Linked DNA regions of Homo sapiens: regions 1, 2 and 4 are each reported to be linked to region 3. The links are microRNA targets in miRTarBase. Many come from high-throughput screens and were not tested one by one. Region 3 holds a microRNA gene; each other region holds the end of a gene's coding sequence. Distances are from middle to middle.
The links. Region 3 holds the annotated microRNA hsa-miR-6134 (UGAGGUGGUAGGAUGUAGA, at 1,789-1,807, opposite strand). A microRNA usually pairs through its seed, bases 2 to 8, with sites in the 3' UTR of a target mRNA and lowers its output. Matches are read on the target gene's strand: a 7mer-m8 pairs with bases 2 to 8, a 7mer-A1 pairs with bases 2 to 7 and ends in A, and an 8mer does both.

Region 1: miRTarBase lists BMP3 as a target of hsa-miR-6134. The part of its 3' UTR that is shown has no 7-base or 8-base seed match.
Region 2: miRTarBase lists ZNRF3 as a target of hsa-miR-6134. Seed matches in the 3' UTR shown: 7mer-m8 at 2,767-2,773.
Region 4: miRTarBase lists PRPS1 as a target of hsa-miR-6134. The part of its 3' UTR that is shown has no 7-base or 8-base seed match.

What each region holds. Positions count from the first base shown.
Region 1 is chr4:81,053,097-81,056,340 of GRCh38, reverse strand. It overlaps BMP3 (bone morphogenetic protein 3), which reads right to left. Exons shown (of 3, transcript NM_001201.5): 3 at 1-2,996. The coding sequence ends at 2,805. Among named protein-coding and RNA genes, the nearest start is that of BMP3, 24 kb to the right of the region's middle.
Region 2 is chr22:29,053,136-29,056,135 of GRCh38, forward strand. ZNRF3 (zinc and ring finger 3) reads left to right here. Exons shown (of 9, transcript NM_001206998.2): 9 at 444-3,000. The coding sequence ends at 487. Among named protein-coding and RNA genes, the nearest start is that of C22orf31, 7.2 kb to the right of the region's middle. RefSeq lists a silencer at 2,066-2,360.
Region 3 is chrX:28,493,787-28,497,030 of GRCh38, forward strand. MIR6134 (microRNA 6134) reads right to left here and starts at 1,877; the gene lies at 1,769-1,877.
Region 4 is chrX:107,649,495-107,652,738 of GRCh38, forward strand. PRPS1 (phosphoribosyl pyrophosphate synthetase 1) reads left to right here. Exons shown (of 7, transcript NM_002764.4): 7 at 446-1,532. The coding sequence ends at 538. Among named protein-coding and RNA genes, the nearest start is that of PRPS1, 23 kb to the left of the region's middle.

The sequences.
Region 1 (3,244 bases), not on the chromosome of region 3:
AAAGAATTATTTTTTTCAGTAACTGACTGTGTGTGTGTGTGTGTGCACACTGCATGGGGTAGAGAGATTACTTGTGGGGGAAGAGAGAGAGAGAGTATTATGCATGATTTAGCAAATGGAGTTTATAATTGTAGCTTCTCTTTTCATGAATGCCAATTTAATAATTTAATATCAGGAGATTTCTAAAGCTTCTGTGTAGGAATTATACAGAAACTAGTACCTAACAATTTGTAAAACAGGCACTTACTAAATTTTCTAACTACTCTTAGTAAATCTGTATTAATTAAAATATTAATACATTTACTTCAATCTCTACTACTGAAAGATAATCTTGCTTTATTCTTTGGGAATAAAACTCTTCCAATTTAAACCATAATACATCCTCAATTCATTAGTAAAATGATAGTTACAAAGCACCCAGAAAAACTGCTGGTTAAAACCTATTTCCATTGCTAAGAGATTACCCAAGTTCTTTCATTGTGTTGTAATTTTATATCAATTGCTACTTAAAATATAATCTTAACTAGTTAGTACCTGTAAATTTTATTATGTAGTGGGTTTTTGGCCATTGTGGGGTGCAATCTGTAATAACTAGGCATTGATTCAAATTAAGAAAGGTAATAAACAGGCATTTGGATATAAGAAGGCTAAGAAGTGATACTGGGAATTGCCAGAAGTTTTGGTTGATACAGCTCTAGAAAAAAACCTAAATTTAGAATTTCACCAAATCTACCAATGAAAAAGTTTTCTTTATTGAAAAACAGTACGATCAGGATGGTGGCCACACTCTGGCCCCCTTCTATCATATACTTTTATTTTCAAATGTTTGAGAACATGTATTAAAAAGTAATTTTATCCTCCATCTCACTTTGAATCTTTAATTTTATGCTACTGTAAGAACTAGAAGAAAGCATGGTAACTCAGGCACCAGAACTTCACTCATTTTTTTTAGAACTGGTGTGTCTCACTCACAGAATTAACACACACCCACACCAACATTTGTGTACCCCAAGGTGTCAAAGAGCTTCTTTTCATGAGTTATTCTTTTAATGGGTTTGCAATAAAATACCACTTAAACCAAAGCGAATGCCATACTAATTTACAAACAGCGAAGTATAGGATGTTCTTTCATTTAGTTTATTAAAAGAGGGACTTACAGTGTTTTTATATCTATCACTATCATTCCTTCAAGGAAGACGGGTGTGAAATAGCTGGAATTATAAACTTAACCCTTCCAGCTCATGGCCAGCCTCTTCATTTTACCAGTGAGGACACTAAAGACACACAGGTAACACAGTGCCTTTCACAAAATAGATGCTCAAAACATATTTATTAAATGACTGAACCACCATAATTAGCTACAGGCAGAGACAGAACAAACTCCACGTCTTCTGATACTGCACAGCCTCCAAAATGGCTGAGATATTTCTAAGTATCAGATAAGACGGAACTAAAATGAGGATTAACCACAGATTAACACCAACAATGATCTACGGCCTGAAAGCATTTCCATCACACAAATAAATATAGTGAGAAGAAGGATATTGAAATAATTTTGAAGACTAAAGTTATAAGAGGACACATATATGTATGTGACACATAGAAATGGAAAGCAAAGACAAACAAGTGTCTATATTTGATTCCCATACCTGACGAATAATGTTTTGTAAGCTTTGCTAACTTGTAGATTTCGTGACTGAGCCAAAAGCCCTGATCTATGTGAAAAAGTGCCTGACTTAGATGTGACTGAAGAATGATATTCAATATTTGGTTATGGTTAAATTGGTCATTTAAGAAGATCTTCAATATTCTACCAGTTTTTGGGCCTCAACATCTACCAATAACTTCATAGGAAGTAAAGGCATATCAGGAGAATTAAAGAGTTAATGGCTTTAGGAAGGATTTTTAAATTCAATTTAGAATAAATAAAAGCATTTGTGAAAAAGAAGTACAAAAGAGGAATTACACTTGTGTTTTCAAAAACTAGGTTTCTGATTCCTTTTTCTGGTAGGAAATGAAATGAAAACAACTGTATTTGCAATTAAATAGCTGGGTCAAGTGGTAACTCTCTGTATATGCTCTTGAATTATTCTATCATATTTGGCAAAGTTCTTATAACTGAATGGTGTTTGCCAAAATACAAAATTAAAAAAAATAAAGAATCCTGTGTAAACTGAATTATAAAACCATATTAAGCAAACCATCCTACAGAGGGCACAGGCACCTGGCGCATGTACGCACATACATACACACTAACGCTCAGCATAAACTTTCCATTACACTTAGACAATGACTTGTGGAGGAAAAACAAGGATAAACAAGAGTCTCAAGAACTTAAGAAAAACATCAGAGTTGATTATTTAGCACTTTCTCAGGATTCTAAGGCAATAAGCCTAATTCAAAACGCGAAATTGTTCTCTATTTCCCATTAGTCATTAAATGAGATAAATGACAAGCTATTGCTGCTTCTCCATTCTGTTTTCAAAGAACATTACAAAAATAAACCAGTGTGTTCTCTAACAGTTCTAAAAACAGTTTGATAAGTTGTTGTGTTTGATTACAAAAAGAGAAATAGATGTCCATATTTACTAAAAATCTTGCTTTAAGTTACATTCAGAAACAAATACAGTTCTTTTCCTTGGTGGCAATCTTCAGTCTATTTGCTCATTCCCCTCTGACTATAGAAATAATCTTTTGAAACAAAATGCATTGGCAGTGCAAAAAAAAAAAAAAAAAAAACAGGAAGAAGTCCATAAAAATAAACTAATGATTGAATTAAGCATTCAAATGAGTTCTTTGCCAGGTTATCTGCAAGCGCAAGACTCTACTGTCATGTTAGGGTATACTTTAAGCACTACATTCTTATTTTCATCAAAGAATAAAATACTGAGTGAGGACATCTTTTCTGGTACACAGCAAGGCTCAGGAATCCCAGGAACGACCCCCACAGCTCTCACTATACTCTGGATGGTAGCATGATTTGATGGCTTCAAAGACTAGAGAAAGAAATGAAAGAAGAACACATATGTTAGGTGGAACTGCGTTTCCACTCCTCAGTCCTCATTACACAAAATGCTTATCTAATGAATTTGTTTCAACAATTTAATAAAACCTCTGGCATCATTATACATTAAGCCCAATCGCCTATCCCACCACTACCAAAATGGTTATTATTTATTAAGTGCCTGCTGCATTCCAGGCATATTATATGTAGTATCTCTAATTCTCACAACAAAGCTAACAT
Region 2 (3,000 bases), not on the chromosome of region 3:
CGCTACTTTTCTCCTCCAGATCTTAGGTTAGGTAACACTCCAGCCCCCTCTGAGATCACCTACACACCTTCTGTTCACTTCTGTCATCCTATTGCTAAATTACTTTGTCTCAAGGTTCGTAATCTCTGTGAGGGAGTCCTCTCTGCTGCTTTTCCCAAGGCCTGACGCACACCGGGCACCCAGTTAACATCTTTAATATATTGGGCTTTCGTGCTACCTGAGGGCTTCTAGAAAGCTCTCTACATCCAAGTGAGAGGCTGGCTCTCCAGGAGGTACCTGTGCTCTCAGCACAAATGGAGCCCCTCTGGGAACAGGAACCTGCTTCAGCCCTTTAGCATACACAGGCCTGCCACATGCTGGGGACAGGGCCACCTGAGTCCCTTGCCTGGTCCCATGTGTGGTGCCAGCTCCCTCCCCTGATGATTGTTCTCTCTCTTTCCCAGGACCGAGATCTCACTCAGCAGACAGCAGCAGCCCGGGAGCCTGAGCTCAGGAGGAACTCTTACCTGGAAATTGGGAACTGTATGGAGACTCCAAACTGACTTCTTTCAAAAAACAAAAACAAAAAATTTTTTTAGCTTTGACAAACACACAAAAGTGGTAATAAAGAGAGCCCTCCTTGTCAACCCAAAATGTGAGCCCCCTGTGGCAAAACCACCCCCTACCCCATTAACAAATCAACAGACAAAATTCTCCGAGTCCTTTGCCTCTTTTGATAACATGTTGTTCTGTTTTGTAAAGTGTGTGTGCTTGGGGTTCCGAGGTGTGGGATTGAGTTCTCTGCTTTGTTTTTTTTTAAGATATTGTATGTAAATGTAAAAAGTTATTTAAATATATATTTTAAAGAACCCTAACTGCCAACTTTTGCTGAAAAAGAAAAAAAAATCACTGCTGCATTAAATGAACCACATCATGTGTAGATACTGTTGTCTCCCTGAAGGGAGCTCAGGCCTTTGAAAAGCTCAGGGCTTCACCTGCCTTAGAAAATGAACCAGAAACTTGAAGTAAAGCTAGTTGATAGGGGTACAGGCTCTGAGGAGCAGTGCAAAACTGCCTCTTTCTTTCTCGTGGCAAATCCCAATGTACACGATTTCAGGTCTCAGACGCCATGCCTCTCCAGCCCACGCCTTTAGGCAGGTGATGGCAGCAGCTAGGAATAGGGTGTACATGATCCACAGCCCTGCGGAGCCAGGTCAAGCCGCTGCTATGAAAGCTCCAGGGTGATGGGGACGATTCTGCCCAGTGTCCTCAGTCTGTCCCCTCAGGTCATGGTCCCAAGTGAAATGACAGAGTTCACAGCCCTGGTCTTGGCTGAGGTCCAGGTCATAGTAAGGGCATGTTCTTGGGGCCCTCGACCTGAACTCTGACCCTCCGGGCAGGGAAGAGGAGGTTGTCCCCTTTGGTTGTCCTGGCTTTGGAGTCCTTTGCAAAAATATTTTGGGCCCCCTGCCACTGGCTGCAGAAATGGCTCGACGGGGTGTGTGGGGACAGACACCCAGAAGGAATGTACTTTTGTGGCCTTGGTGTCCGATGGGGCTGGGGGAGAGTGCTCTCCACTGACCCAGCAGCACACCCATGTGCAGTGCGCCTGCATCTGTGTGGGGGCAGCCACACCCCTTGGCTGCTGCTTCCTTGGGCTGCCTTTCTGGGGGCATGTGACTGGACCTACGAGGTCTGCACTGAGCTCCATTTGAATGATACCTTTCCTATCCCATTTCCCCCACGGAAGCACCGCTTCAGGGTTATTCAGTCCTCTGCCTCATGGCTGAAATTGCTCATCTCGTCTGCAGATGTCTACTATCCTGTCTACCTAATGCACTATTATGTATTGATTCTCCATGAGACAGAGAGAGAGAGAGACTATCAGATAGTTTACACCCAAAGGGTAGGTTTTTGTATATTTTTCCAGCCTTTTTTATTAAGGGGAAGGGGAGAGTTTAAAAACCCAAACCGTTGTGGTTTTAAGGTGTTTCATTTTTAAAAGGGAGAGAGAATCTATTTAAAGCTATTTCAGATCAGGGATTGTCATCCTTTTTTGTCCAATGTATTCCTTGTTCTTTAAAAAAATTTTTTTTAGAGGAAACTAATATTAGTCTTTGTGTTCACTAACTCTTCTGGTCACTTGTATTTATTTATTCATTCATTCATCAGATATTTGTTGCCATCTGAAAGAACTGGCCCAGTGGGTCTGAAAGCTCGCTTGAGAATAGGAAACTTGAGACCTGGCCCCCTGTGGGTAGGAGAACAAGGACCACCTGGGTTCTCCAGTCTTGAACGAGAATCTCACTCTTATCAGAATGTTTTTCTTAACCTCAGCGTATGATGAGGAAATTTACTTATCTCTAGCTAGGATTTGACAAATTCCAACATCAAATGATCAAAACATTTGCCACTGAGGCTTCACTGGTGAGATCCGTTCTCCGTCCTCGGGTGCAGTCCCTTGGGGGCTGCTCCTCGGACTGCGCCCCGCACACCTGTTATCGAGGGTGTGAGAAGCGCCTAAGCTGGTGACATGTGATCTGGGACGCCTTCATTTCTCGGGCCAGGAGTAGCAGCTGCTAAGGACAGCAGCTTGCATTGCGTGGTTTTAGGGAAGCAGGGTCTGGCTTTTAATATGAACTGCAAAAAGCAGCTTCTCACTGATATTTTTTTGTTGTTGTTTCTGGGGGGTTTTTTTGTTTTGTTTTTAATGCCTTTGAGTGCATATTTTCTTCCTCGTCTGAAACCGAACTCCCAAAGTGGCTTTCTTTAGCCCTGGCTGGAAAACCACCTCTCAATAGCCTTAAGCAATAAATAGATGAGTAGAGAATGTGGCTTCAACTGGGCTTATTAAAGTAAGTGTGTCTAGTTTTCACTTGAACAAGTGATAGCTGCAGATGGCGAAAGAAACCCATTTAATTTTTGTAGCTTACAGGTGGTAGAAACAAAAATGCAATTTTAAAACCTTAAATACCAAATACCAACCATTGCCTTTTTTTTTTTTGAGATGGAATTTTGCTC
Region 3 (3,244 bases):
TTGCTCTAGGTGTTACAATGCATGTAAGTAAGCTATCACTTCTATTAATGGTTTATCACTTTGAGTGAAGTGTAGAAATCTTACTACCATTTAGGTCCTTTTACCTTTCCTAAATTTTAAATATAATGATCTTAATTATTTACTCTAGATACATTGAGCATCACATCTAATGATGTCATAATTTTTGCTTCAAACATCAAATATAGTGTATGAAACTCATGAGAAGACTAGTCTTCAATATATTACCCCATTCTTACTCATTCTGATGCTTTTCTTTCCTTTTTGAAGTTCCAAGCCTTCATTTGTTATCATTTCCTTTCTGTTTAGAGAACTTCCTTTAGCCTTTCATTAAGGGTGCTTTTACTTGCAACAAAGTATCATAAGTTTCCTTCTTGTAGGTTTCCTTCACCTGAGAATGTCTTTATTTCCCGTTTATTCCTGAAGAATATTTTTGCTGGATGCAGAATTCTGGGTTGATATTTACTTCCTTTCAGTACTTGAAAAATCTTGCACCACGCCTTCTAAATTGCATAGTTTTAGGGTGGGAAATTTACTGCAATTCAAGGTGGTATTCCTCTATATGCAATATGTTGTTTCTGTCTGTCTGCTTTTAATTCTTTTCTTTTTGTTTAGTTCTCACAAGTTTAATTTTGTTGTGTCTTTGCATACATTTTTTTAGGTTTATCCTACTTGGAGTTTCCTCAGCTTTTTGAATCTATAGGATATGGCTTTCACTAAATTTGGAGAGTTTTCAACCATTATTTCTTTAAATGTTTTTGTTCTTCTCAGACTCTGATGATACAAATGTTAGATCTTTGTTATTGTCCTAAAAGTTCCCTGATACTTTGTTTATTTTCTGCCCGGTCTCTTCTCTCCCCTGAGTTGTTATTGTCCTAAAGTTCCCTGATACTTTGTTCATTTTCTGCCAGGTCTCTTTTCTCCCCTGAGTTGAGATAAATTTCAAACTGAGTGCATTCCAATAATCTGTACTTAAGTTCACTGATTCTATCTTCTTGTGATCTCCAATGTACTCTTGAGCCCACCTATTGAATTTATTTTAATTACTACACTTTTCAGTTCTATGATTTCCATTTTGTTCTTTTTTATAATTTCTATTTCTTTGCTGAGGTTTTCTATTTTTTTCCTTTGTTTCAAGAGTATATGTAATTGCTTGTTGACACATTTTGATGATGGCTGCTTTAAAAACCTTATCAGATAATGCGAAGATCTGATTCACCTTGCTTTCAACCACCTTGGTGTTTTATCAGTTCGTTGGTTCTTTTTATTCATGCTGTGATTTTTCTGATTGTTCGTATAGCAAGTGATTTTTCCATTATAGTCTAGACATTTTAGATATTACATTATGAGACTATGGATCCTATTTCATCTCCTCTTTTTAGCAGACAATTGCCTGTTCAAGTGTAGCATGAAGGCAGTTTGCCATGCATATTCTGTTTCCAACTGAACCCCACCAACACTATCATGACAAAAGTGGGGCAGTGACTCACATTGCCTCACTACAGATAAGTGGGGTAGAGGTTTAGCCACACCTTTGGCCCTGTTAACACCATCTTGATGAAAGTAGGACACTGAGTCACATTGCTTCATTGCCTCTGAGTAGGAGTATAAGCTCGACTTCCCACTGGACACTCTGACACCAGCAAGGGGTAAGGAGAGGACTGATGCATACCTCTTTGTTACTACAGATGGGGGCAGAAGCTCACTGTCTGCTAAACCCCATTAATACCAGGGAAGCACAGGGTTTGAGAAAGCAGAGTGTCAACCAGCTCTACATCCTACCACCTCATTCAGCTTCATTTATGCAGGTGGAAATAGAGGGTCAGTTCCCTACTGAGCCCTACTGACATCAAGGCCCAGTGGGGAGCTGAGGTTCAACTCCCACCTGGCATCAATGCCTGGCATCAATGAAATGCTTGGTGACCCAAATTTGTACTGCCTTCCTAAGTCTCACTAATCCTGGGTACAGAGGAGGCTCAGCTGCCTGCTGGACCCCACGGCCACTACACTGGCTGGGGAATCAGAATACTGCCTGAGACAGCCAGGGAGAGGCAAAAAGACCAGGTCCCTGCTCAGTCCTGCTAACACTATCTTGGCAGAGGAATTGGAGCACTTCCTGGTTCTGCTGAATGGAAGCAGAATTTCAACTGCCCCATTAACTTGCTGACAAAAGTGCTGTCTGCTTCCACCAGGCAGCAGTGGGAAGATTAGCTCCACATTTAGAAAATTAGGTCCGTGCTCAGCCCCACCCTAGGAAAAGGAAGGAAGAAATTCGAGTCCCACCACCTGCTTTCATAGAGTAGGGTAGTGGTGTGAAAATCAACTCCCCACTAAGTTTCACTGAAATCCCAAAAGCAGGGGCATTTTTTTCTATTGATGTTTGGCTGAGGGTGTATGTATTGCCAAAAAGGTTTTTTTTATTGTTGGGACACCCCATTTCTGGTCAATTAGCTAGGGAAGAAAGTACTTTTTTTGGAGTTTTCTTTTATCCATGGCTATTGGCAGTTCCGGGTTAGATGCTTCTGAAGAGCCCTGTCTGGGATATATGGGCTATATTAAGGAAACGCAGATAACACATCACCGTTTTATTCTTCAAGTCCCAAGGTCCCTAGGTAGTCCACCCCTTTCAGCATTTTCCTATGCTTAGTGCTATATCCAAAGATCTAGGAAAATATGTATCATATGAAATTCAAGTGATATGTCAACTTGCAACATTTGAATTAATTTATATTCTAGACAACCTTTTTAGGTCCTCTTAAAATTTAAGTTGACAGTGAAGTGCCCATTCGAGTGGGTAAATTTTGATATAAAAGGTCAGTGCTACTCATATTTTCCCTGGAAAATCCCCTAAGAATATCAAAGTATTTCTTGTTTTCCCCCATATCTTCCAAACATTTTAATGCTTCTAAGAGCTGATTATGGTAGAATTTTTTTAAGTATACAATCGTCTAAAAATAGCTCTGATTCTATGAATTAGGAAAGAAAAAGGAAAGAGAACCATTAACAGTCCAATCAGATAGTTAAATAAATAAATTTTTGCTAGAAAGAACTGAGAAAGTGGCATCATGTAACTAACTTCAAAATAATACATGGATAAAAATATATATTACTAAAACTATAAATGTTTACAAAAACGTCCGTTAAAAATAAAAACAAGGCCAGCGCGGTGGCTCACGCCTGTAATCCCAACACTTTGGGAGCCCAAGGCGGGCGAATCACTAGGTCG
Region 4 (3,244 bases), 79 Mb from region 3:
CCCAGGCTGGAGTGCAGTGGCACGATCTTGGCTCACCGCAACCTCCACCTCCCAGGTTCAAGCAATTCTCATGCCTCAGCCTCCCGAGTAGCTGGGATTACAGGCGTGTGCCACACCATGCTTGGTTAATTTTTGTATTTTTAGTAGAGACGGGGTTTCATCATGTTGGCCAGCCTGGTCTCCAACTCCTGGCCTCAAGTGATCTGCCCACCTTGGCCTCCCAAAGTGCAGGGATTAACAGGTGTGAGCCACCGTGCCCAGCCGTAAGTGGCTATCTTAAAAATGTTATGAAGAATAGCTGAGTGCAGCCTCATGACAGGGAAACAGCACAGTGTTGCAGTTTTAAGAGGAAGGGCACTTGCCTGGCTGCTCATCAGTGTCTGCAAATTGGCCAGTCATCTCTGACCATATGATAGTAACCTGATTTCCTTTCTTGCCTTTCTAGGTGATTGACATCTCTATGATCCTTGCAGAAGCCATCAGGAGAACTCACAATGGAGAATCCGTTTCTTACCTATTCAGCCATGTCCCTTTATAATAGAGTAACTTCTGAGGCTTTTTGAGAATAAAATCCACCCCACCCTTGTTTCCCCTTGGTATTTGATGACAAATTCAGCAGAAGACCCGGCTTGCTCCAGTGTAGCTTTCTACATCCCACATCAGGTATATTAGAGCTTATCCGAACTGGGGAAAGACGGATTGAGATTAACTGCTGGGACCTCCTACCTGCATTATCTCATTCTGGCTTCCTTGATAATTCTGTGGGCCTTGCAGCTTTAACTATAGCTCAGCTGCTGCAAGATTTCAGACTTTTGAGGATGTTGTGTGAGGGTGTTTGACTGTGACTGGGGAAGCTCAGACTACTTTGTATGTGAATGCTTCAGGGTTTTCTTTGTTGAGAACAACTAGCAACAAAGGCAACCCATGTGTGACCAGTTCTCCCCAAGGTCTATGCTAAATTATAGCAAGAGCCCTGGGCAACCCCAAACCTAGTCCTGGTAGCTGAGCACCCTGTAAGGCAGGAGCAGGCAGCTCAGCTTGAGCAGACATTGGGTGGGGGGTGGGGGGTGGTTGAGGGGGGAGGCAGCACAGTGCAGCAAATGTTTCTTGGGAGGAAGAAGCCTGATCCATCACCATCTGCTTGACTATGTAGCTTGGATTCTCCTTTGTACCTATCCCTTTCGATTTGGCTTTACCTTCATCTATCTTGATCCTTTCCTGGCCAAATATCCTCTTGGGCCCAAATGAACATTGTACCATAGTCTTCTGGAAAGCAAACATGCTTCCTGCTATGTAATTGCTAACATTCATATTAGATGATGTGCTGTAGCTTGATCTTCCTTAGCCTACTGCCACTGAGGCAGTAGGTTTTAGGTGGTATCGTAGTGCCTTTTGATTAATTTAAGTATTTAATTTTCATCTTCCTTCTTTGGATCTATTTGGCCTCTCAAATGAACTGAGATTCCTGTTAAAAAAGATTGATGTTATTGTCTCTTGTAGAGGAAACTAATAAAGTGTGTGTACCTGTGTGATTTGGGGTCTGTATCATACATAATCTGTACTGATCTCTCTGCTAAAGGTTTGGTTTAGATAGATGTCTTGCTGTCCATTGATAGCTCTTATTTGTTTCCAAACTACGTTAGCTTCATTGTTAAACCAAGAGAAGACATTGGCAGCAGTTTTATTCAACTGTAAGACTAAGATGTCTGGAGTTTACTGAGAATGTGATAAGAGTGTAATTCTGTGCAGTATACCTAAATTATAGCATGTATAATGTCTGGTGGATCTCTGGTTCTTACTCCTGAAGATCCAAATTAGGTATTTTCTTATGGGAGGAGAATTTCTGTGATTTATTCATTTTGAACTAATTTTGCCAAATGTGATAATTTCCTTCCATTCATCAGTAATTGACATACGTTTGGCATTTACTTTCTTTGTTTTTTTTGATTTTTTGGTTTTTTTTTGAGATGGAGTTTCGCTCTTGTTGCCCAGGCTGGAGTGCAATGGTGCAATCTTGGCTCACTGCAACCTCCGCCTCCCGGGTTCAAGCAATTCTCCTGCTCAGCCTCCTGAGTAGCTAGAATTTATAGGCATGTGCCACCATGCCCAGCTAATTTTATATTTTTAGTAGAGACAGGGTTTCACCATGTTGGTCAGGCTGGTCTTGAACTCCTGACCTCAGGTGATCTGCCCGCCTCAGCCTCCCAAAGTGCTGGGATTACAGGTGTGAGCCACTGGTGCCCGGCTGGGCATTTACTTTCATCCCTGCTAAATAAGAACTATTTTGAGAAGGTAAATGTGCAAAATTTAAGGATGAATTATTATGCATTCCAAAATTTTAAGTTTCCTTCTTTCTTTCCTTTTTTTTCTCTTTCTTTCTTTCCCTTTAGCTCTCTCTTTCTTCATTTCTTTCTTTTCTTTCCTTCCTTCTCTTTCTCTCTCTGTCTGTCTGTCTGTCTTTCTTTCTGTCTTTCATCTTTCTCTTGCTCTGTCACCCAGGCTGGAGTGCAGTGGCTCGATCTTGGCTCACTGCAACCTCCACCTCCTGGATTCAAGTGATTCTCCTGCCTCAGCCTCGAGAGGGATTACAGGTTATCTGGGATTACAGGTGTGCACCATCACACCTAGCTAATTTTTGTATTTTTAGTAGAGACAGGGTTTTGCCATGTTGCTCAGTCTGGTCTCAAACTCCTGGCCTCAAGTGATCCGCCCACCTTGGCCTCACAGAGTGCTCGGATTACAGGCATGAGCCACCATGGCGGCCTTAAGTGAGTGAGTTTCTTGGCCCATCATCAAATAAGGGTGCTCTTTTACTTTGGGAAGCTACATGGCTACAGAGCTTCATGAAGAGTGCTTCCTTATTTGTGAAGCCCAGGTCTACTTTTGTTTATTTTGTTTTTGCTTTTGTTGGATATCGGGATATCTATTTTACAGCTAGCTCTTTGATAAAAGTGATTCAGGAGGGACTAAAGTATACTATGAAATGTGCGCCTCTAACCCTCTAGACCTCTTTAATCTCAGATTTTTGCTCTGGGAGAAGCTGATGTGAAGCACCAATGCCTTCACTTGCTCATCATGCTATTTCCTAAAGTATTGGATCAGTGGGTCAGGTCTCATTGTTACAGAATATTTTGACATTAAGATCTCTCTTGTGGGCCCCTTTGGGTAATTCATTTCCTAGGATGAGGTTTTGAGATTATTCAAAAAAGGCCCAGTCCCCAACTTTGATCCCTTTCAAAGCAGT